Linked DNA regions of Homo sapiens: all the other regions are linked to region 1. Evidence: fine-mapped expression QTL. A gene starts in region 1. Each other region holds a variant in brackets. All regions are shown on one strand. Distances are between the middles of the regions.

Region 1 (4,089 bases):
TGCAATGGCGCGATCTTGGCTCACCGCAACCTCTGCCTCCCGGGTTCAAGCGATTCTCCTGCCTCAGCCTCCCGAATAGCTGGGAATACAGATATGCACCACCACACCCAGCTAATTTTTATTTTTAGTAGAGACGGGGTTTCACCATGGTCTCGAACTCCTGACCTCAGGTGATCCACTTACCTTGGCCTCCCAAAGTGCTGGGATTACAGGCGTAGCCACCACGCCCAGCCTATTTCAGATATTAAAAACCTGGTATTCAGTGGTTAAATACTTGGCCAAGGCCATTCAGTGGTCAAACCTTTCATCCTGGCTAAGAGGCTCAAAGCCCAGGACCTCTTTGCTGTATCGTGCAGGAATTTCTGATAAGTACAAAAATAAGAGGCTGTGATAGCTGAGGTTTATGCCTTGGAGAACAGTTCTCCAAAATCATGGAATCAGAGGTGTTTCTTTAAAAACTTACTTTTATATATTCTATCATACTGATATGATGATGTTGACTCTCTACTAATGCAACATTTTTAACATACCAGAAGGTGATATTTCAGAGTTAGAAGAGACCTAAATCATGTGATCTATCCATATCTCTTATCACTGGGGCATATTTAACATGGAATGCATATTTAACATGCATTTCAGAAGTACCTTCTGGATGATGACTTCTGATAATCTGATTGTTGTCCATCCCCCCAGATCAAAATGAATTACACTGTAGGTGGCAGGCAGCTTCTAGGATGGCCCCAATGATCCCTGCTTCCTGATATTCATACTGTTGTGTAATTCCTTCTCCTTGAGTGTGGATAAAACCTGTGACTTGCTTCTAACTGATAGAATATGACAAAGGTGTGAGAATGTCACTTCTGTGATGAGGTTTCATAAGACAGTGACTTCTGTCTTGGTAGGTGACTCTTTCTATTGCTATCTTGACTTGCATACTTTGATGAAGCAAGTTGCTATGTTGGAAGGGCCCCATGCCAAGGAACTGAGGGCAACCTCTGGCCAACTGCCCCAAGGAAACTGAGGCTCCAGTCCAACAGCCAGTGCAGGGCTGAATCTGGCCAAAAAATGCTGATTGAGCTTGGAAGCAGATCCTTCCCCAGTTGAGCCTTCAGAGGAGACCCCAGCCCCAGCTGACACCTTGATTGCACCTTTGGGAGAGGCTCTGAAGCAGAGAACCCAGGTAACCTATGGTCAGTTTCCTGACCCACAGACTGTGAGATACTAAATGCATGTTGTTTTAAGCAGCTAGGTTTTAGGGCAATTTGTTATGCTGCAGTAGACAACTAATACACTGTACTATATTTGTCTCTTTTTCCAGCAGGACCAGAAATGGGCTGTTTAAGGTCCCTGGGACCTTGTCATGTCATGTGTATTTAACTGTTTACCCACCACCGAAAAGCTTCCTGCCAGGACCCATCTGCAGTGTAAAAGGGGAACCCTGAAGCCCTGGGAATGGCTCCTAGTACTTCAGGTAGGGGCTCTGTGTCCCCATCAGTTTCCACCTTTGGGCCTCCCACTAGAACTTCCTTAATTGTCTTTCTCCACCTAAGCATCATTTAGCTTACAAACCAGAGGCAGCAAGCCAATTATTCCCCGGAGAAACTTCAGCCAGGCAGGGGGGCATTAACCACACCAACTGGTGTTCCACAACAAAGGTATGAGAGGCAGAGATTCACATCCCAGTCCGGTTCGTAAGCAGAGGCGCATGAAATAAGAAACCCCTTTTGAGAAAGAGGGAAATTAGGGGAGATACTGAAATTATGCGTTGCATAGGACATCAGGCAACCACTTCACTGTCGGCTTCAGTTTTTGATCTGCAAGATGGGAGTCTACTTCTAGGTCCCATAGTTTTTGATTCTTAGTCTGACACAATGTGGGTTGCTGTGAGCTGGCTCTTTGGGTGCCAAGTCAGCTATCAAATGTGGGTAACAGAATACCTGTCTTCAAAGGGGGTTGTAGAATTAAATGAAATAAATAAAACACGTGAAACGTGTAACACAGGGCCAGCCCAAGTGTCATCGTGGCAGTTGCTGCTTCACCACGGGGTCTCAAGTCCCGAGGAATTGGGGTCGCGGGCGAGCGGAGCGCAGCCGGGACCCAGGCCGGGTGGCCTGCCCCGCCCACGTGGGGCCGCGGCCCGTCGAATGACTCCTTGCAACGTGTTGGTGGTGGCGGCGGCGGTGGCGCGGGCTCTTCCGGGCGCCGCAGCTTCCTGCCAAGCACCGCGCAGCCGCCTCCGCCGCAGGATCCCCCGGTGCAGGCCTCCGTGCTGGTGCGGATCCTGGAGCTCAGCCGCGCGCGCCCTGCCCGATCCTGTGCCGACCCACCGCACTATGCGCGCCGTGCCGCTGCCCGCCCCGCTCCTGCCGCTGCTGCTGCTCGCGCTCCTGGCCGCTCCCGCCGCCCGCGCCAGCAGAGCCGAGTCCGTCTCCGCGCCGTGGCCCGAACCCGAGCGCGAGTCGCGGCCACCGCCCGGCCCGGGGCCCGGGAACACCACCCGGTTTGGGTCTGGGGCGGCGGGCGGCAGCGGCAGCTCCAGCTCCAACAGCAGTGGCGACGCCTTGGTGACCCGCATTTCCATCCTCCTCCGCGACCTACCCACCCTCAAGGCAGCCGTGATCGTGGCGTTCGCCTTTACCACCCTCCTCATCGCCTGCCTGCTGCTGCGCGTCTTCAGGTGGGCCCTCCCGCCCTCTTCCTTCCCCCGCCGGCCGACAGGGCGGCATCGCCAACCTGCTGTCGCCGCGCGCCCGCCCCACCTGCACGCACAGGTGCCCTGGTGCGCCCCAGCCAGCCGTGTGCCTCCTGCCCTGCCCGGGAGAGTGGGTGGGGGGCCGGGGTGTGCTCGTCTGGATTTTCCTGGTACATGTTTTAGGAATTTTCTTTCCTCTCTTTAACTATATATATAAAATAAATATGTGGTTCCCATTTGTTGGCTTTCTGCTAATGCTGAACACTAACAATAGCGCTCTGAATTCTGACAGCGTTTCCCATAATTTATTTTTATAATCATTTCACAGATGAGGAAAACATTTTCAGAGAGGCAAAATGGCTCATCTAAGGTAAACTCAGTGGTGGAGGTAGGACTTGAACCCAGGCCTGTCTAACTTTAATCTCGCTACTCCCTCTCCCTTCTACCATCTGCAGCTCCCTCACGCCCCGCCTACTTTTTCTTCTTCTTCTTCTTCTTCTTTTTTTTTTTTTTGCTACTGAAAGAAGCAGTTTCTAGTGTGGGGGGTAGTAGAATTGCCTCCAGAATTACGCTGGAGGGGTGCTTTGCACCAGGGGTTGGAGCTGAGCTTCAGGATTCTAGGCGACCCTTGGTGGCCTCCCTTATTTTCTGTTGGTGGGGGACACAGACGGCTTTCCTAGGCTCCTGCCTAAGTTGCGCTAGATGAACATTCACAGGGGCATGAGGGATCTTGGAGAGCCTTTTGTAGGTTGCTCACGTTCAGGGATAAAGTGTCTGGTAAATTAGGAAGGATGTCCCAGGTCCTTGATCCCTGTCCATCCTGGTGGACAGGGCTAAGAGGAATGCAAGGACATTTCCTTTAATGCCTGGGAAATCCTGTTTTTGCAGGAAATGAACCAAACCTGTCCTGTTACTGAGGCCCGCCTGGAAGTCTGGGTGTGTGTGTCAGCTGTTCACTGCTGCCTCCCTCTGCTTCCAAGCGTACACACAGTGCTTTGGTGTTTGATCAGCTGTGGCAGGTTGGGCTTCAGGGCTTGCTCTCCTGGTAGCATTTTCAGTGCAACAGCAGAAACCAGACCAGGAAAAGGCAGAGTTAGGAGCCATCTATGTATTGAGCTTTGCTGTCAGTTGTGTGTGACTTTGAGTCCAGGTGTTTTCTTCTGTGTCTGTAGGATTAGATGCCAGTGGTCTGAGAAAATGGAGAAAGGGGAAGTATGGTCCCACGCTCACCTCACCATTCCCTGCCTTGTCTCAGGCCACATCGTTCCTCACTCTGCTGGTCTCCTTGATGTTCTCTGGGTTGAAATGCTCCTGTCTTCTTCCCACTCTACCCACTGGCCTCAATCCTCTGTTTACAAACTCTAGCAGCTCTCTGTGGCCACTACCTAGGCATGGCA
Region 2 (4,089 bases), 120 kb before region 1:
CTTTGAAAGCGGTTTTAAAATATTTTTGCTTTTTTACTTTTTTTTCTTTTTCAACTGTTATTTTGGAATTGAGGTTACGTGAAGTTCTGTCACAAAGGCGTATTGCACGATGCTAGTTGTGGGGTGTGCTTGGGCCTGTCAGCCGGGCAGTGAACATAGTGTCCAATGGGTAGTTGTTCAGCCCTCGCCACCCTCCCTCCTTTCACCCGCTAGTAGACCCCCGTGTCTGTGGTTTCTGTCTTTATGTCCATGTGTGTTCTATATTTAGCTATCACTTATAAGTAAGATGTGGCATTTTGGTTTTCTCTTCCTGAATTAATTTGCTTAGGATGATGGCCTCCAGCTGCATCCATGTTGTTGCAAAGACCATGATTCCATTCTTTTTTTATGGCTGCAAGAGGGCTAGTTCTTTTTTTTTTTTTTTTTTTTGAGATGGAGTCTCACTCTGTTGCCCAGGCTAAAGTGAAATGGCGAGATCTCAGCTCACTGCAACCTCTGCCTCCCGGGTTCAAGCTATTTTCCTGCCTCAGCCTCCCGAGTAGCTGGGATTACAGGCACGCTCCACCACACGTGGCTGATTTTTTTGTATTTTTAGTAGAGACGGGGTTTCACCATGTTGGTCAGGCTCGTCTCAATCTCCTGACCTCAGGTGATCCTTTGGGAGGCCTGCCTCGGCCTCCCAAAGTGCTGGGATTACAGGCATGAGCCATAGCGCCCAGCCGAGGGCTAGTTCTTGAGTCAGACAGATTTATTTCAATAGCAGCTCTGGACACTTACTAGCCGAGTGACCTTGAGGAAGTCATTTCACTTCCCTAAATGAGGATTAAAATGACACTGTTTCACAAGGTGGCAGTGGGAATTGGGACTGTGACTGGCACATGGTGATTGTAAATGAAAAGTAAATGGTGATAACTGCTTTTGTGTGTGTGTGTGTGTGTGTGTGTGCGTGCGTGCGCAAAGTATCAGCCACACTTCAGGGCATTTGCTTTTTGCTTCTCTGTCTTTCCAGTAGTCTGTGAGTTCCTGAAGGTCAGGGACTAGGTCTTGTTTTGTATCCGCAGAGAGATCTGTACAGAAGGACCTCAACGAGTGCTGTTGAATAGGGAAGCAAGTTCAAGGCACTTTAGGGATTACTTAGTTTAGATCATCCTTGGCAGTTGAAAAAGGAGAAAACCAAGGCAAAATGACTTGCCCACAGTCACAGAGTTAGAATAGAAGTTGGAGATTTTTCCATCCAAGGCTCGTTCCACCGCCATACAAGGCAGAAGCTGGGTGGAGGAGGGAAACCTGCCACCTTTGATGCCGTGTTGGCCCCAGGCCAGAAAGAATGGTGTTCAATGTCTGTCATAGCAGGTATCTCTTCCAATCACTGTACAGCGAGGTCTCTCATTCCAACTTCTGAAGCATCATTCATTTTCCTTGTTTGTGGTAGACCCATAGAAACATAAAAAAAGTATAAATTGAAAGTTGGGCCGGGTGCGGTGGCTCACATCTGTAATCCCAGCACTTTTGGGAGGCCGAGGCGGGCGGATCACCTGAGGTCAAGAGTTCGAGACCAGCCTGACCAACATGGAGAAACCCCGTCTCTACTAAAAATACAAAAAATTAGCCGGGCGTGGTGG[T/C]GCATGCCTGTAATCCCAGCTGCTCGGGAGGCTGAGGCAGGAGAATCACTTGAACCCGGGAGGCGGAGGTTGCGGCGAGCTGAGATGGCGCCACTGGGACTCCAGCCTGGGCAACAAGAGCGAAACTCCGTCTCAAAAAAAAAAAAAGGAAGTTGAATCAGATTTAATACTTCCGGGCCTTGGTTATTCCATTTCTAAAACAGGAGCAGTTACTCTTTATTCCCTCGTTCATTGAACAACACATTTGTAGAGCCTCTGTGGCCGCAGTCTGGCATCGTGGCGGACACCGTGGCTGCAAAGATGAACAGAGTGAGAGCTCTGCACACAGAGAGCTCAGAGAACTGCAGAGCGACCACCTCGATGGTCCATAAACCACGGCTCACTGTTTGGATTGCCCGGGCTTCACAGCGTGGACACTGAGCTTTGGAGAACACAAAGCGAGGAGCTGTTTGTTTGGCTTGGGGCAGAGTTAGCTAAGCATCGAAGATGTGACATTTGAGCTGCCTTTTGAAGGATAACTAAACGTACCTAGTTTATTGTCTTTGCTGCTGTTTGTAGATCTATCTGGACTGATGATGCCCTTTACGTGACAGGCTTTGTTGGGAGCAGATGCAGAGATTATTCAGAAACTCAGGGATATATACTTTTTTTTTTGAGATGGAGTCTCACTCTGTCGCCCAGGCTGGAGTGCAGTGGTGTGATCTCGGCTCACTGCAACCTCTGCCTCCCGGGCTCAGGCGATTCTCCTGCCTCAGCCTCCTGAGTAGTTGGGATTACAGGCGCCTGCCACCATGCCCAGCTAATTTTTGTATTTTTAGAAGAGACGGATTTTAGTAGAGACCATGTTGGCCAGGTTGGTCTCGATCTCCTGACCTCAGGTGATCTGCCGGCCTCGGCCTCTCATAGACTTCTTTGATGTGATGATGCATCCTCTAGTCAAGGTCTTGCAATCCTTTCCTCAATTTTTGCCCCCCGTGTGAGGATGAACCACTTAGCAAGTAAAAGTACAGGACTTTGCCAAGTGTAGTGGCTCATACCTATAGCCCCAGCACTTTGGGAGGCCGAAGTGGGAGGGTGAGCCCAAGAGTTCAAGACCAGCCCAGGCAACATAGTGGGACCTTGTGTCTGCAAAAAAGGAAAAAAACAGCTGGGCGTGGTGGCGTATACCTGTAGTCACAGCTACTTGGAAGGACTGCTTGAGCCTGGAAGGCCAAGGCTGCAGTGACTTGGAAGGTCAAGGCTGCAGTGAGCCGTGTTTGTACCACTGGATTCCAGCCTGATTGACAGAGCAGGACCCTGTCTTGAAAAAACAAAACAAAACAAACAAAACAAAACGGGACTTCAAGCCAGGTGTGGTGTCATGTGCCTGTAATTCCAGCTACTAGAGTGTGAAGTAGGAGGATCACTTGAAGCCAGGAGTTCAAGGCCAACCTGTGCAACATAGTGAGATCCTGTCTCTAAAACAGAAGCAAAAACAAAACAGGACTCCAATTAATTGGAGCTTCAAGTAAATAATATTGTAACAGAGAAATCTAAGGTAGCTATCTCCATCTTGCTTCTAACCCCACAAGCTACCTGCCTTTGCTCATTCCTGCACATAGGCCGAGATAATCATGAAAATAATTTATAGCTTAGGCTGGGTGTGGTGGCTAATGCCTGTAATCCCAGCACTTTGGGAGGCCAAGGTGGGTGGATCACCTGAGGTCAGGAGTTCTAGACCAGCCTGGCCAACATGGTAAAACCCCGTCTCAACTAAAAATACAAAAATTAGCCAGGCGTGGTGGCAGGCGCCTGTAATTCCAGCTACTTGGGGGGCTGAGGCAGGAGAATCACTTGAACCCGGGAGGCGGAGGTTGCAGTGAGCTGAGATTGCGCCATTGCACTCCAGCCTGGGAGCGAGACTTCGTCTCAAAAAAAGAAAAAAAAAGAAAAGAAAATAATTTACAGTTTAGATATGATGACTATTTCTTTTTTTTAAAAAACTTTTCCTTTTTCTTTCTTTCTTTTTTTTTTTCTGAGTCAAAGTCTTGCTCTATCCCAGGCTGGAGTGCAGTGGTGAAATCTTGACTCGCTGCAACCCTCACCTCCTGGGTTCAAGTGATTCTTGTGCCTCAGCTTCCTGAGTTGCTGGGATTACAGACATGCGCCACCACTCCCGGATGCCTGGCTAATTTTTGTATTTTGAGTAGAGACAGGGTTTCGCTGTGTTGGCCAGGCTGGTCTGCAACTCCTGACTGCAAGTGATCCACCTGCCTTGGCTTCCTGAAATGCTGGGACTACAAGCACAAGCCGTTGCTCTGGGCCACTATTTCTTTTTTGAAACAGATCCCTGAGGGGACAAGGAAGCATGCATACAAGTAACGATGTTATGTTAAAGATTTATAGGCACAAGGTGGCCTGGTTTATGTCATCTGGCAAGTAGCTGATTGTGAACAAGAAGTTCTGCAAACTTCTTGGACCCCTGGTG
Region 3 (4,089 bases), 26 kb before region 1:
AGGTTTCAGCTTGCTCAACTGGACAGCAGATGGTGCCATTCCCTTGGTGGGGGAACAAGCGGACGGGGCCAGGCTTTTGAAGTCTGATGGAGTTGTTGTTTGTATGTTTACGGGCAGGGGGATCACAAACACTCTTGGATATATTGAGTGTGAGAAGCCTTGGAAACAAGGCCATGAAGACTTGAGTGGGTAAGGGAGGGATACCCAGGTCTGGAGTTCAGAGGAGAGGTGTGGCCTGGAGGGGAAGTTGGTATCATCAGCATGTAGGTGGAAATGAAGGTGGAGGTGCTGAGATGGTCTAAGAAGGGAAGCCGTGGGAGCAAAGAAGCCGGTCTTGGCGCTGAGGAGAATGAATATGCAAAGGAGATGGATGTGGGGGCAAAGAGCCAGGAAGAGAGGCAGAAGAGTGCAGTGTCATGGAGGCCACAAGAAGGGCGTATTTCAAGAAGGGGCTCTTGCTCTGCTGAGAAAGGGAGGTCAAGGAAGAGGAGGAACATGTCTGTGAAATTTAGCAATGTGGAATCATGACTAAGCTTAGAGCCATGTCAGTGGAGTGACAAGCCGGAAGCCATGTGGGAGTTTGGGGGAGAGAGAGGGAAGTGAGGTGATAGAGGGTCTTCTAGGAAGGCCCCTCAAGGGCTGGGCTGACTGAGTTGTGAAGCTCGCCCTTTTGTCCTACTTCCTGCCAGGAATTTGGACCTGACAGCTGGACAACAGTGTGGCCATTCTTGGGGCCATGAGGAAAAGGCCTGGAGTCTGTGATGTGAACTCCTGGAGCTGCTGAACCATCAGCAGCAGCTTGCACAATTCTGGAATTTTTTTTTACTTGAGAAAAATAAAACCTTATGTGTTTTTGCAGCTGACAATAATTTGTAACTGATAGAGTGTGCTGCCTGCGTTATCTGGTTTAATCCCTACAACTGCCTATTATTACTCCTATTTTACAGACAAGGAGACCCAAACACAGAGAGGTTAAGAAAGTAGAGTCACACAACTAAGGTGGCAGAACTGAGTTTAAAGACAGGGTTTCTCCTGGATGAGATTGGAGACTCTTACTTTAAGTGAAGTAACTCGGGAATGGAAAACCAAACATCGTATGTTCTCACTCATGAGTGGGAGCTAAGCTCTGAGGATGCAAAGGCATAAGAATGACACAATGGACTTTGGGGACTCAGGGAAAGAGTGCGAAGGGGGTGAGGGATAAAAGACTACAAATTGGGTTCAGTGTACACTGCTCAGGTGATGGGTGCACCAAAATCTCACAAATTACCACTAAAGAACTTGTTCATGTAACCAAACACCATCTGTTCCCCAATAACCTGTGGAAATAAAAATTTTAAAAAAAGACAGGGTTTATGACTCAAGACCAAGTCCTTAACCCCTGTAATATACTTTCTCAATAGCTATTATTGGGACTTTGGTGTTAATTGCCATTAGCCATCTCAAAAGACGACTGGGAAGATTACATGTCACAATGAGGCCAAATCTCCTTTCACTAAGGTAGGGATAGAGTAGGTGCTTAATGCATGCTTTGAAATACCTGACAATTCTTCCTGTACTTCATCTGTTACATATTTTGTGGAGATAGTGGTGGTGGTAGGGCATTGCTAGTAGACATTGAAAGTAATTTCTTTCCTTTTTTTTTTTTTTTTTTTTTTTTGAGACAGAGTCTTGCTCTGTCACCCAGGCTGGAGTGCAGTGGCACGATCTCGGCTTACTGCAACCTCCGCCTGCCGGGTTCAAACAATTCTCCTGCCTTAGCCTCCTAAGTAGCTGGGACTACAGGCGCGTGCCACCATGCCCGGCTAATTTTTTGTATTTTTAGTAGAGACGGGGTTTTACCATTCTGGCGGCCAGGCTGGTCTCAAACTCCTGACCTCATGATTCGCCCGCCTCGGCCTCCCAAAGTGCTGGGATTACAGGCTTGAGCCACCGTGCCCGGCTGAAAGTAATTTCTAAAACTATAATTCCACAATTCAACTTTACATGCACTCTAGTAGTTCATATTCAAAACTATCCTCCCGCTTATAATCACAGGGGAAAAAGTGCTGAAAGCAGAGAATCAAAGCTGCTGGTATAGGGAAATCAAGCTCCATTTCCACAGCTGTAACCATCTTTCAGCCACAGTGAGGAATGAGCACAGGGGGCTGGATCGCTTTCATTGCAGTTCTGTTAAGCATGATGTCACTAAGGGGGATTGTGAAATCACCCACTTCCAAGCAGA[A/G]CAGAAAATCTGTCCAAGTTTTACAAATGTTATTTAAAATCTTAGCTGTCAGCCGTGAGAAAAATCCCTGCAGTCACATAAAAAAACCAGAATAGTTTTCAAAGATGGCTTTTATTACTAAGTTGTTACTATAAACATGCTTTCACCCAAACAGAGCAAAAATATGCAATTTCCTGAAAATGGGAGCTGTGAAATCACATCCCCAGAATATTTGTAATTACTGTTGATGATTCATTTATTAGCATTTCAGTACACATGTTGAGGGGGGAGGCGGGAAGACCAGCCTACCAGCATGTATCAACAATTAGTGGAGATACTATCTTTTCTTAATGAAATTTGATAAACAAAATTGCCTGATGGCTTGTATGTATTTTTTCAGAATTGAATAAAACTTAGAATTTATTAATGCACTTGCATTACTATAGTACTTTAAGCACTTGTCTAATATATACAGATTAAAACTTTACATGGTTTAAATAACAGGTTTTCCTCATCAAATATTTGGGTTAAATAAAAAAACCTGACATTTACATTCTTTTTTTTTCAATCATTGCCCAACAGTTTAGAACATAGAAAACTCAGTTTATCCCATATTCTCTATCACTACCATCTTGATCATGAAAGCTTATTTTAAAATGTGCCTATAATGAGTTTGTTGACACATACATTATAAAGTTAGAGTGAAAAGCTGAGGTGATCTATGTACCTGCTGCTGCTATTGATAATTTACTCTGCTTACCCTTGGCAAAAACGCTCAATGAACAATGTTTTAGAGTAGGGGGCTGAAATCCTTTCCGCTAGTCTTATAAATCATTCATTTTGGATTCAAATAATAATTACCATCCCTCCACTTTAGATATCCTACATATTTTAAATGGTGCAGCTCCCTATAACAATGGGAATGGGATATCGAGAAAATGGATGGCTGTTACATGTCAGTACTGGCAGCTTACTTTCCAGGTCTTATCCCTAAAGGTAAAGATTTGGTTATGTTTATACATAACATTGTATCGCTGTGTTCCATTCTGGGGATGGTACGGAGCCAGATAAGTGGGAAGTAAGTCTATGTCTGCATCCATAGGATGGGCTGGAGAACTGAAAATGTCTCTGGAAGAACATCTTTGTATACATAAGTATTTATATAGACATACTCATATAATCTTGTATGTGTGTGTTTATCTATAGACCTATGTATATCTATATCCAGATCTATCTATATTTCTATCTATATTCATACAGAATAAAGATATAGAAGGTAGAAGTATTGATAGATAGTGGTACTGATAGTAATACAAAAAGAAACTTCCGGGCCGGGCACGGTGGCTCACGCCTGTAATCCCAGCACTCTGGGAGGCCAAGGTGGGTGGATCACGAGGTCAGGAGATCAAGACCATAGTGGCTAACACGGTGAAGCCCCATCGCTACTAAAAATACAAAAAATTAGCCGGGCGTGGTGGTGGGCGCCTGTAGTCCCAGCTACTCAGGAGACTGAGACAGGAGAATGGCGTGAACCCGGGAGGCAGAGGTTGCAGTGAGCCGAGATCAAGCCACTGCACTCTAGCCTGGGTGACAGAGCAAGACTCCGTCTCAACAACAACAACAACAAAAAACAAAAAAACAAAAAGAAGCTTCCATAATGTAAAATCTTATTTGTCCTCTAAACGATATCCACAGTAGTACACAAATAAAGGTATGCTCTGACATACATCTTGCTGCATTTAATGTATACAAAGGAAGGAAGGAAGCATTGGTCCTTGTTGCTCACTTCTGTGAGGAGAAGAAAAGGCACTAACGCCATGGGAGTCATTCATTGCAGGTCAAGGTTGACCCTTCCCCTTCTGGTGAATAAGGGACCAGAGATGAAC
Region 4 (4,089 bases), 110 kb before region 1:
GCCGTGTCTGTGTAGAAAGAGGTAGACATGGGAGACTTTTCATTTTGTTCTGTACTAAGAAAAATTCTTCTGCCTTGGGATCCTGTTGATCTGTGACCTTACCCCCCAACCCTGTGGTCTCTGAAACATGTGCTGTGTCCACTCAGGGTTAAATGGATTAAGGGCGGTGCAAGATGTGCTTTGTTAAACAGATGCTTGAAGGCAGCATGCTCGTTAAGAGTCATCACCACTCCCTAATCTCAAGTACCCAGGGACACAAACACTGTGGAAGGCCGCAGGGTCCTCTGCCTAGGAAAACCAGAGACCTTTGTTCACTTGTTTATCTGCTGACCTTCCCTCCACTATTGTCCTATGTCCCTGCCAAATCCCCCTCTGCGAGAAACACCCAAGAATGATCAATAAAAAAAAATAAATTAAAAAAAAAAAAAAAAAGAAAAAAAAGGCAGAATGAAATAAGGAGATGCTCCACAGACCCAATATAGGCCCTCAGGAGTTTTCAAAGAGGGCCACCTGGTTGTGTTTGAGCAGCATCACTTAAATTTCTTCACCCACAAATCTGCGTAGCTTCTGAACAAGGTGCAGTGGGAAATCCACTTTTTTTGTGACCCCTTTATAACATTCTGTAAGGGTGTACAGTAAATCCTCATTTAACATCATTGGTAGGTTCTTGGAAACTGCAACTTTAAGCAAAATGACTCTAAGAAAACCAATTTTTTTCTCATCAACATTATAATGAAATGAGGCTGAACAAAATGACATTATTTGAGTATCTGCTGTACATTGCATTTTGCTTAAAGTTGCAGTTTCCAAGAACCTATCAACAATGTTAAGTGAGGACTTACTGTATTAACACATTTAGTAAAAAAGGATCCCACTGGATTTAATCCAGTAACATTATACAAGCAATTACTTGTACACACGTAAGTACAATTAATTGTACACACATAAGTACAAGTTCCCAGATCTTGAGTGTGTGATGCCTGGAAGCACAATATACCTTTTGCAGGCATCACTCAGGCGGGTTTTCTTTTTTTTTTTTTTTGAGACGGAGTCTCTCTCTGTCACCCAGGCTGGAGTGCAGTGGTGTGATCTCGGCTCACTGCAAGCTCCGCCTCCCAGGTTCACGCCATTCTCCTGCCTCAGCCTCCCCAGCAGCTGGGACTACAGGAGCCTGCTGCCATGCCCAGCTCATTTTTTGTATTTTTAGTAGAGACGGGGTTTCACCGTGTTAGCCAGGATGGTCTCGATCTCCTGACCTTATGATCCGCCCGCCTCGGCCTCCCAAAGTGCTGGGATTACAGGTGTGAGCCACCGCGCCTGGCCTCAGGCGGGTTTTCTATATTTAGTAATTATTAGCTTATTAATTGGAAAAGTTAGAGTGTTGTTTGTAGCGAGTGCAGGAAATCCATTAGCCATGATGTTTAGAATATCAAGGATAGCTTTCTGCTCTTCCTTTAACATTTTAAGGTGGCTCTCATTGAGAACACAGAGAGGCATTAGTGTTAATTGAATTGTTTTCTGATTTTTTTGCCATTAGCCCATAAACCCAACAATTGCTCTGGTTTTGTGCTAGGGCATTAGCTTGAGCTAAAGCTTGATTATGGTCCTACAGATTTTCCTGTAGGAAAAAGGAAAATATTAGGACAGGAGGAAATGAGGAAAAAAGAAAAAGGCATAAGTCTTTCATGA[T/C]GGCAGAGAAGTTTTGCTGCCTAATTTTGGGAAAACTTTCCAAGTCTAGTATGCCATCTGCTTCTGGGGAGAAATTTCTCTTGTTACCTTTACCTTAAACTTGCCAACCAGTGTACAGTTCCAAGAATCTGAGCAGGCCCTTTTGAGCTGTGACATAACATTCAAGGCCCTGAAGCTTCACTGCATTGTGGGTGGTGAGAAGAAATTTGTACAGTTCCTTCCAACAAGATCAGGGGGTCTTCCTCTGATGTCATTTCCAGATGACCCAATCTCTAGATTTGAGACTTTGAAAGGTTTGATTGTCCTCAGTTGATGGGTCAGTAAGAATGTCTTTACCTGTTGAAAATACACTTTGGCATAATGCATTAAAACCTTGCAGTATTTAGTCACATGAGAGTTAAGGAGAGCAGGAGATGCAGAAAGTTCTATTATTAGGGCTATGGGCCTTCTAGTGACTACTTTATCAGGGGTCCACTTATGTTTTCCAGTGGGAATGGATCTGATTGCCATTAAAGCTAATGATAGTATCTTTGGGCAAGGTAATCGATTTGACTCAGTTAACTTTGCCAATTTAAGTTTTAAGATGCCATTTGTTCTTTCAACCTTTCCAGGAGGCTGAGAGTGATAGGAACAATGGGAGTGTGTCTGTAACACCTTATTTAACTGCTTTATAACTTGCCCAGTAAAATGAAGTCTCCTATTGCTACAGACTTCTCCAGGGATGCCCTGTAGAGAAAACAGATTTTCTAATAATTTTTTAGCTACTGTCACAACTTGACTTTCCTACATGGAAAAGCCTCTACCCAACCTGAAAACATACAGCTATGACAGGAACATACTGATACCCCATTGAGGGTGCCAACTGAATGAAGTCTATCTGTAAATCTCCAAATGGTGCATTAGGTGGTGGAAATATACCCCCTGAAGTTTTGATTGTTTTCCCAGGACTATGAGTTTGATAAACCAAACATTGGTTATAAACCAGTGTTTTAGCAATTTTAGAATAGTTGCCCCACCCATACTTTTTAATAATTTGGAACATTTTTTCTTTTTTGGAGACAGATTCTCTCTCTGTCACCCAGGCTGGAGTGCAGTGGCGCCATCTTGGCTCACTGCAGCCTCTGCCTCCCAGGTTCAAGTGGTTCTCCTGCCTCAGCCTTCTGAGTAGCTGGGACTACAGGCATGTGCCATTGTGCCTGGCTAATTTTTGTATTTTTAGTAGAGATGGGGTTTCACCACGTTCGCCAGGCTGGTCTTGAACTCCTGACCTCAGGCCATCTACCCTTCTCGGCCTCCCAAAGTGCTGGGATTACAGGCATGAGCCACGGTGCCTGGCCTGGAACATTTTTTCTGTTCCATGATGAGTTATGAAGTGCAGAGCTTTTAACAATGGAAGCTTTAAAGACTCATGTAGGACTAGGTGGCCATCCAGGCCCTCTGTGAGACTGTGCTTCACATTTAATTTATATACTTTTACTTATTTATTTTTGAGAAGGAGTCTCGCTGTATTGCCCAGGCTACAGTGCAGTGATGTGATCTCAGCTCACTGCAACCTCTGTCTCCCGGGTTCAAGTGATCCTCCTGCCTCAGGCTCCGGAGTAGCTGGGATTACAGGCAGGTGCCACCATGCCCAGCTAATTTTTGTATATACTTTTAGATATCAATTTTGTTTTTCCAAATTAGGTGCATTAAACTGTTTATTAAATAGGTCATCAAAAGGGAGTAGTTGACTCGTATTAATCTTATGGAGTTCATCCAAATTGTATATGCCAACAGTTTCAGCACTAGCTGATTTAGCATTAAAATCTGCTACGGCAGTTCCTTGATATTCAGTTTAGTTTTACAGTATGGGCTTCAATCTTAATAATGGCAATCTGTGACAGTAACAGGAAAGCAGAAAAAAATTCATCTAATTGGAGTCCATTTTTGATGGGGCTCCCACTAGAAGTGAGAAATCTTTATTGTTTCTTTAACATGCAAAAAATCACATACTACTCAAGAAAGATATACATTATCCGCATAAATATTTACCAACTTGTCATTAGCTATATAACAAGCTTGGATGAGAGCAAAATCTCCTTAGGTTGAGCTGCCTTAAATTGAGGAAGAGCTCCCTTCTCTAGTAACTCATTTTGGGTGGGAATGGCACATCTTACCTATTATTTTCCTTCCAAATTTTTGGCGTAGGACTCATCAACAAAAAGTATTAACTCTGGATTATCCAACAGAGTAAACATGAGGCGTTGCTATTACTTTTTTGTTTTTTCTTTTCTTCTCCCTCACCTCCCTGTTTTTTTGCTGTTGCAAAAAGCTTTATTTCTATTTGGTCCAAGGCATGGAGAGGGCTCTAGGGTGGTTAAAAAGCTGCCCAGTGGCTGGAGGGAGAGTCTCAGGCAGAAG
Region 5 (4,089 bases), 30 kb after region 1:
ATTCTGAGCCAGTGAACAGCGTCTCATCAATCTTTGGTGACTGAACTAACTCCGTGGGAAGCATGATAGACAGAACTATTTTTGTGGTGTCTCCACATCCCACTGAATAAGAGAAGACCCTAAACAAGGAAATATGACAATCAATCTGCTCAGAAATTCTCTTTATAGGCTGTTTCCTAGAAGGTGGGAAAAGGGGCCTTTCCCTGAGGGCATAGACGTCCATATTATTGTGGCCTGGTTGCTGGATTGACATTGTGTCTGGTATGATGAAGATAAGGCACACGTTGAAACGAGTGTCACATTAAGAAACTTCCACAGCTTGTCTCAGTTCTTCAAATAATGGAGCGAGTTCCTTTTCTAGGCTGACAATGACTGCCATATTGGCATTGCTGCTGGCTGTGAAACAAACAAACTACTAAAGGTAAACCACCTGGTAGGTGTTAAAGTTAACAGATAAGTCCAAGCTTGTGTTTTGAAAGTCCAGGTTGGCTTGCTGGCTGGCGTGTTGCGAGGGCAAAAGTTAGTGAGACACCTGGTCTCCGGGCACGCTCTGGGTCATTTTCGTTGGCCACTTTAATGATGTGCATTCCATCTCTATCTGACACAGCGATAGTGCGGGGCCCTTCAACACTTGGTGGTTTTTTTTTTGTTTTTTTGTTTTTTTTGAGATGGAGTCTCGCTCTGCCGCCCGGGCCAGAGTGCAGTGGCACTATCTTGGCTCACTGCAACCTCTGCCTCTCGGGTTCAAGCGATTCTCCTGCCTCAGCCTCCTGAGTAGCTGGGACTACAGGCATGTGCCACCATGCCCAGCTCATTTTTTGTATTTTTAGTGGTGACGGGGTTTCACCATGTTGGCCAGGATGGTCTCGATCTCTTGACCTCGTGATCCACCCGCCTCGGCCTCCCAAAGTGCTGGGATTACAGGTGTGAGCCATGGCGCCCGGCCAGCACTTGGTGGTTTTTAATACAGGAATAGTGTTAGCTCCCTGAAGCACCTTAGTAGTGTCTCCTCTGCCCCTATTCTAGGCAGAAACTCAGGACCCTGCAAATCCCTCTGTATAAGTTTCCCGCTCCAGACCATCGGCCGTAAAGAACCCCTTTGTCCCACTGACCAGTCTCCATGCCTGGGTTTCTGCTTCTAGGGCTGCCAGCTTCTCTCTGCTGTCATTCTGGGGACAGTGTCAAAAACAGATTTCTCTGCAAGCCGCCATCTCATGATTCATGACTTTGATGTCTCTTAAAAAATATTATTTTTAAACTTTTTGTTTATTGCAGTTATTTTTAAAAGATACTGATTTTTTTAAAAAAAATCCAGCAACTGGCTGGGTGCGGTGGCACGCGCCTATAATCCAGCACTTTGGGAGGCCGAGGCGGGCGGATCACGAGGTCAGGAGATCGAGACCATCCTGGCTAACACGGTGAAACCCTGTCTCTACTGAAAATACAAAAAATTAGCCGGGCACGGTGGCTGGCGCCTGTAGTCCCAGCTACTTGGGAGGCTGAGGCAGGAGAATGGCGCGAACCCAGGAGGCAGAGATTGCAGTGAGCCAAGATCGCGCCAGTGCACTCCGGCCTGGTCTCAAAAAAAAAAAAAAAAAAAAATCCAGCAACCTTGCTAAACTTTTATTAATTCTTGTAGGATAAATGTGGAATCTTTGGGTTTTCTGTGTAGATACGTCATCTGGGACTAAGAAGAGTCCCTGTCCCTGCTCCCAAGTCCTTAAACGTTTTATCTCTTCTTTTGCTTTGCTTTTGCCTTTTCTGCTTCCCTTCCTTGAGAAGTTTGTGCTGTTTGTGGTTGAAATAAAATCAGAATGTGAGTGAACTTGGAAGTGAGTCATTAGACACAAGCCCACTGCAGTCCTCAGGCCTAAAGATGACTGACTGTTCGGAAAGACTAAGTAGTGCTGGCTTTTCTTATTACAGAGGTAATGTTAAGCTGTAGAAAATACAGATAATAAACAGGAAAGACACAGTTACTTGTCATCTCACTACTTAA[C/T]AGTAACCACTAGAGTGTGTGAGTATATAGATGTGAAACTTTGTTTTTTATAGAAATAAGACTGTATTATACATGCTGTTTTGGCACGTTTTTCTACCCAAACAATGAATCATGAGCAACTTTTCAGGCCAATAGGTGTGAAAGAACAAAGAGTTTCAGACGTTGCATGTTTGGTTTAGTGTTTTTGTGAACTTCTTTGTCTGCACATGGCTAATCTGTTCACAGGTACTTGTTTTTCCCATTTAGACATAACTCAACCAAATGTTTCAGTTCTCTCTAGGAAACAGACTACATTTAAATCAGATGAATCATGGCTTTGGGTTATTTTGTGATTGGGTGGAAAGAGGAAAATCATGTTTTTGGCACCAGGGCAGTAAGGCAGAGTAACCTGCTTCTTATTTCCCAGGTAACTCTCTGGTAACATCTTGTGACTTAGAGCCTGTGCCTATCAGACAGGCTTTTTTTTCTCGAAGTTTTCAGCCAGGTAGGAAATGAAGGAGGAAGAATACAGGCAGGGTAGGAGATAAGACCTTGAGTGCGTAGGGCCAGAGTTTGGGGAGGGAGGGAGGGAGTTCTATAGAAATGAATCTCTAACTCTGTACTTAAAAAGACTAATTAGAAAGAAGAAATGATAGCTAACCAGAGTACAAGAGTGCCCTGGGGTTTTGAAATGGTTCTTTCAAGAGGCGTTTGGGTTTCGGCTGCATGTGTTTTGAGCTTTGTTGCCTAGTGTGCAGTTGTGTGGATGCTCTGGGCCTCTTTGCATTCCCGGTTTATTACAGAAGACTTTGTTACACCCTCTAGGCGTCCTCCAGGAAGAGACAGATGTGGGCTTTTCCTCCCGTGTGTGTGGCAGGCGGCCCGGCAGCTGTGACAGGCGCAGCCCAAAGGCACACTGCTGGGAGAACGCGCTGCTCCTGCCAGCCCTGCCTCCCCACCAAGAGGGAGGTCCCTGTCCCGGCTTCTTATGTGTGGAAAGGATGTGGCCCCGTGGGGGTGTGGACGTTCATTCTAGAAATCCCTGCTTCCCACCCTCTTGTGGGTAGGGCTTCCTTTGGGAGTATAATTAGAAACCCACGAGATTTCCACTGTAATGCTGCGGGCTTTGGCTGGTGTCTTGTCTTGGAAACAAAGGGCATTTTTGTGCAGTTTGCAGCATGAGGCCTCTGCAGGGTAGGCAGGGAGTATGGGAAAACAGACCTGGCTTGCTACCCGGGAGCTCTGAGTCCCCATGGACGCCCTCATGGCAGTTGCTAAGCACACTCAAGGCAGTGACTTCTTGGAGCTGCTTCTACTTACTGAGGACCTCTGAATGGCCAGGCACCCCAGGCTTCCTCGTGGTCTTCTGAGGGCGAACTGTTAGGAGCATCGGCAGATGGACAGCTGCCTGGGCGGTGGGTATAGAAACAATGGGCATCATTAGCTTCCAAGGCCTGGAAGGAACCAGAGAGGAGCCGGTGACCTGCAGGGTAACTGTATCTGAAACAGCATCAGAAGCCATCCCCAGACCAGTGTGAATAAACCTCTGCCAGTCCTCTTCCTTGCAGAATGCAGAGGATATGTGTTAAAAATGGGCATCTCATGGAGAATTTTTGTTTCTTTGGAAAGCAATATTGGCAGCCTGCGGGCAATTTTCATTTAGGGTGTCTCACTCAAAGCCAGGGCACCTTAAAAATTCTTGTGTCTATGTCTATGAGGATGGAGCCTACGTGAACAGGAATCTGATCAAATAAACAAAAAGGAAAGAGAAAGAAAGAAAAAGAAAAGAGGGAAGGAAGGAAGGAAAGATGAACAACACAAATCATCCTAAGTATCAATGCTTTTGCAAAAGCAAGCCATGTTTTTCAGATGTTCTTTTCTTGTGTGTCCCTGGATGGAAGCAGTAGAACTGCCAGGGGCTTCCCTGTCACGTGGTGGTGGTGTCCACACGTTTCTCTGTCTCAGACATACTCACAGACAGGCCAGGCCTCCTCCCTCCGGCTTCTCCGTCGTTCACTCATAAGGCCACTGCGTCCTCTTCCCAGAGTGTCCTTGCCGGCTGCACTGAGACGTCAGCTGCCAGGGTGCCAGACGCTACTGACAGGTGCTGC
Region 6 (4,089 bases), 130 kb before region 1:
TGTGGGTGTGACTTCCTCCAGGCCTCTCAGGAAGAACTTCAGGACAAAGAATGGTAGTCAAAGTGCAGTCCTCAGTTTGCCCCTTAGCTGAGGTCTACGTGCCAGCGGATCCATTTGGTGGGAGTTCTGAAAAACTCAGGGACATATGTTAAGTTGTTACGTAGGGAACCAACACCTTGTGACTCTAACTTCCTTGGCTATTGTTTGAAGCTACTGTTAACTTTCTTTTCTTTTCTTTTTTTTCTTTTTTTTTTTGAGACGGAGGAGTCTCGCTCTGTCGCCCAGGCTGGAGTGCAGTGGCGTGATCTCGGCTCACTGCAAGCTTTGCCTCCTGGGTTCACGCCATTCTCCTGCCTCAGCCTCCCAAGTAGCTGGGACTACAGGAGCCCGCCACCAGGCCCGGCTAATTTTTTGTATTTTTAGTAGAGATGGGGTTTCACCGTGTTAGCCAGGATGGTCTCAATCTCCTGACCTCGTGATCCGCCCGCCTCGACCTCCCAAAGTGCTGGGATTACAGGCGTGAGCCACCGCGCCCGGACATTTTTTTTTTTTTTTTTGAGAGGGAGTTTCACACTTCATGCCCAGGCTAGAGTGCAATGGTGCAATCTCGGCTCACCGCACTGTCCGCCTCCCGAGTTCAAGTGATTCTCCTTCCTCAGCCTCCTGAGTAGCTGGGATTACAGGTATGCGCCACCACACCTGGCTAATTTTTTGTATTTTTAGTAGAGACAGGGTTTCACCATTTTTGTCAGGCTGGTCTCGAACTCCTGACCTCAGGTGATCCACCTGCCTCGGCCTCCCAAAGTGCTGGTATTACAGGCGTGAGCCACCGCACCTGGCCTATATTTGCATTTCTAAGGGACTAAGTGGGAAGTGGGGAACCAGGGGAATGAGAAAAGAAGGGAGAGAAACAAACTATCTCTTAGAAAAATGAGGGGCACTTGGTTACAATTCCTCACTCAAATCAGAGGTTAAGAGTTCATATGTGTCACCAGGAGCTTGTCACCAACAAGCTGGGTTCTTGGCTGCCAGAACCAAGCCACTTCTACTGACTTTGGCTGATAGATGCAGAAGCACTTGTTCTTTTAACAAAGGCTTGTGGACGTAAGAAAGGCTCAGTGTCACTTTCCAGATAACCCAAAGAAATATTTATTCCTGGCTCTGAGCAGGTGGCAGAAGTGGAAGAAGCTGAGATGTGGCTGTGAGTCCTGACTTCACTGCTGTCCAGCGGAAAGAGTCTGAGCAGTCTAAACCCGAGGTTTCGCCAGTGTGAAATGGGGCTAATTATATAGACATATGGGTTTTACAAAGTTTTGACAAATCAGAACTTTTGTTTTATATGCTGGGTTGAAATCAAGGACCTGCTGGGTCTGTTCCTGCTACTTGTGGTTGGGTGGGGGAACAGAGGATAGAGAAGAAACTGTTCATCTCAGGTTGGAACGTGCCAGGTCTTCAGCCTTCCAGTGGCTTTTTAAAAAAACATTTTTATTTATTTATTTTTGAGACAGAGTATTGCTCTGTTGCCCAGGCTGGAGTGAAGTGGTGCAGTCTCGGCTCACTGCAGCCTCCGCCTCCCAGGTTCAAGAGATTCTCATTCCTCAACTTCCCGAGTAGCTTGGATTACAGGCATGTCCACCACAGCCAGCTAATTTTTTTTTTTTTTTTGAAATGGAGTCTCACTCTGTTGCCCAGGCTGGAGTGCAGTAGCGTGACCTCAGCTCACTGCAACCTCTGCCTCCTGGGTTCAAGGGATTCTCCTGCCTCAGCCTCCCCTGTAGCTAGGACTACAGGCGTGTGCCACCATGCCTGCTAATTTTTGTATTTTTAGTAGAGACAGGGTTTCACCATGTTGGTCAGGCTGGTCTCGAACTCCTGAGCTTAGGTGATCCGCCCACCTCGGCCTCCCAAAGTGCTGGGATTACAGGTGTGAGCCACTGTGCCTGGCCTTTTTTTGTGTTTTTAGTAGAGACGGAGTTTCGCCATGTTGGCCAGGCTGGTCTCGAACCCCCGACCTCAGGTGATCACTTCAGCCTCCCAAAGTGCTGGGATTACAAGCATGAGCCACCAAGCCTCGCATATCCAGTGGCTTTTGATGGCTGAAGTGCAAGTCACACCCCCTCTCTGAATTGCACCAGGCCTACAATTCACCAGATTTGCCAGGCTGGGTGGAAGGATATGTAAATCTGACTCAATTCACAGCCTCTCTTAACACTTCAATCAAAATTGCATCTAATTGAGGTTCATTCATAAACCTCATTGACGTAAACAACTGCAAACATGGAGGAGCCCTCCCCAAAGCTTGATAATTACTTCACGATGAAAACTCAGCTGTCAGAACATCATTGTTGCTATGACAACTATGAGAGAAGCTGGTTGCCCAGGGTTACCCATGTTACCAGATGTCACTGGTGCTTGAGTGTTAGCTTCAAATGAGCCTCAGGAGCATAATGAGAAAAGGCAATGAGAACTATATAAATGGGTCTGAATAAGAGAA[C/T]GTCTTTTTTTTTTTTTTTTTTAATCTTAAACCCCAATAGATTCAGGAAGTATCTATCTCATTACAGGACAATTGAGTTATATCTTGGAACCAGGGAGTCCTAAAATGACCTATCCTCTAAAAGGCCTTTCTTTCTCTTTTTAAAATTCTTTGTTAAATTTTTAATAAGTAATACACATATGTGCTTCAAGCTTTAAAAAATACAAAAGGCGGCCAGGTGTAGTGGCTCCCACCTGTAAACCCAGCACTTTGGGAGGCTGAGGCAGAAGGATCACTTGAGGCCAGGAGTTCAAGACCAGCCTGGGCAACCTAGTGAGACCCTGTCTCTTCAAAACTAAAAATAAAGAAATTACTCTCTGGTGCTTCAAGCAACATCTCTGGAGAGTCGTGTTGTGTGAATTGGTTTGTATACATTAGTATGTGTATGTATTCACACATTCATATACACTCAGGATACAGTTGGCCTAATTATCATTGGGGCCATAGGTAAAACTTATGAAGAATGTTCTCATGCTGAATTGTAATTTTCTTTTACCTGTAAAGTAAAATTTAGATCAATCCCATGTCTGTGTTTATTTTGAATATCATAGATATGCTGTACATTTAAAGAGGCAATGCTACTGGGATTATGTAGGTTCTAACTCATTTTAACAAGGGCACTGTCAGGCCTCTAAGCCCAAGCTAAGCCATCATAACCCCTGTGACCTGCATGTATACATCCAGATGACCTGAAGCAACTGAAGAACCACAAAAGAAGCAAAATAGGCAGTTCCTGCCTTAACTGATGACATTCCACCCTTGTGATTTGTTCCTGCTCCACCCTAACTGAACAACTGACCTCGTGACATTCCTTCTCCTGGACTGAGTCTCAGGAGCTCCCCACCAAGCACCTGGTGACCCCTGCCCCTGCCCACAAGAGAAAAACCCCCTTTAACTGTAATTTTCCACTACCTACCCAAATCCTATAAAACTGGCCCACCCCATCTCCCTTTGCTGACTCCTTTTTTGGACTCAGTCGGCCTGCACCCAGATGATTAAAAGGCTTTATTGCTCACACAAAGCCTGTTTGGTGGTCTCTTTACACGGACGTGCGTAACCAGTACCTGACCTGCGTAAGATAACTTGAGGCCAGGCGTGGTGGCTCATGCCTGTAATCCCAGCACTTTGGGAGGCTGAGGCGGGCAGATCACCTGAGGTTGGGAGTTTGAGACCAGCCCGACCAACATGGAGAAACCCCATCTCTACTAAAAATATAAAAAATTAGCCAAGCGTGGTGGTGCATGTCTGTAATCCCAGCTACTCGGGAGGCTGAGACAGGAGAATCACCTGAACCCAGGATGCGGAGGTTGTGGTGAGCCGAGATCACACAATTGCACTCCAGCATGGGCAACAGGAGTGAAACTCCATCTCAAAAAAAAAAAAAAAAAGACTTGAATATTGTATTTCTTAGGACTATACTAATATTCTTCTCACAAAAGGTCTATAAAATATTATTGCTGAAAAGTATTTTGTATCAAAATGTTTGCAGGCTGGGAGCGGTGGCTCACACCTGTAATCCCAGCACTTTGGGAGGCCAAGGCAGGCAGATCACTTGA

Which allele goes with the higher level. Positions count from the first base shown, and alleles are read on the strand shown. Sizes are in standard deviations (SD) of each study's normalised expression. Not every link is listed here.
In carriers of allele C in region 6, the expression in cerebellar hemisphere of the gene that starts at base 2,218 in region 1 tends to be higher than with T alone (small effect, 0.29 SD a copy in GTEx).

What was found. PIP is the estimated chance that this variant, and not a neighbour inherited with it, causes the effect. A credible set is the group of variants that fine-mapping cannot tell apart.
Region 2: its variant is the best candidate, but not a certain one, in a credible set for the expression of FAM174B in whole blood (INTERVAL, PIP 0.63).
Region 3: its variant is the best candidate, but not a certain one, in a credible set for the expression of FAM174B in skeletal muscle (GTEx, PIP 0.86).
Region 4: its variant is the best candidate, but not a certain one, in a credible set for the expression of FAM174B in tibial artery (GTEx, PIP 0.62).
Region 5: its variant is the best candidate, but not a certain one, in a credible set for the expression of FAM174B in whole blood (TOPMed, PIP 0.88).
Region 6: its variant is the best candidate, but not a certain one, in a credible set for the expression of FAM174B in cerebellar hemisphere (GTEx, PIP 0.67).

The regions. Positions count from the first base shown.
Region 1 is chr15:92,653,904-92,657,992 of GRCh38, reverse strand. FAM174B (family with sequence similarity 174 member B) reads left to right here and starts at 2,218. Exons shown (of 3, transcript NM_207446.3): 1 at 2,218-2,677. The coding sequence starts at 2,334. RefSeq lists silencers at 2,042-2,091, 2,372-2,571, 2,672-2,721, 2,772-2,841.
Region 2 is chr15:92,770,767-92,774,855 of GRCh38, reverse strand. No RefSeq gene overlaps it. Among named protein-coding and RNA genes, the nearest start is that of CHASERR, 110 kb to the left of the region's middle. The variant T/C (reference allele first, on the strand shown) is at 1,623.
Region 3 is chr15:92,679,596-92,683,684 of GRCh38, reverse strand. No RefSeq gene overlaps it. Among named protein-coding and RNA genes, the nearest start is that of FAM174B, 26 kb to the right of the region's middle. RefSeq lists a silencer at 1-246. The variant A/G (reference allele first, on the strand shown) is at 2,225.
Region 4 is chr15:92,763,802-92,767,890 of GRCh38, reverse strand. No RefSeq gene overlaps it. Among named protein-coding and RNA genes, the nearest start is that of FAM174B, 110 kb to the right of the region's middle. The variant T/C (reference allele first, on the strand shown) is at 1,690.
Region 5 is chr15:92,623,628-92,627,716 of GRCh38, reverse strand. The region is part of intron 2 of FAM174B (family with sequence similarity 174 member B); the gene reads left to right. LOC124903559 (a long non-coding RNA gene) reads right to left here. Exons shown (of 3, transcript XR_007064768.1): 1 at 3,954-4,089; 2 at 3,299-3,432. Among named protein-coding and RNA genes, the nearest start is that of FAM174B, 30 kb to the left of the region's middle. The variant C/T (reference allele first, on the strand shown) is at 2,000.
Region 6 is chr15:92,779,222-92,783,310 of GRCh38, reverse strand. It overlaps LOC101926994 (a long non-coding RNA gene), which reads left to right. Exons shown (of 3, transcript XR_001751667.3): 3 at 3,085-3,245. Among named protein-coding and RNA genes, the nearest start is that of CHASERR, 100 kb to the left of the region's middle. The variant C/T (reference allele first, on the strand shown) is at 2,495.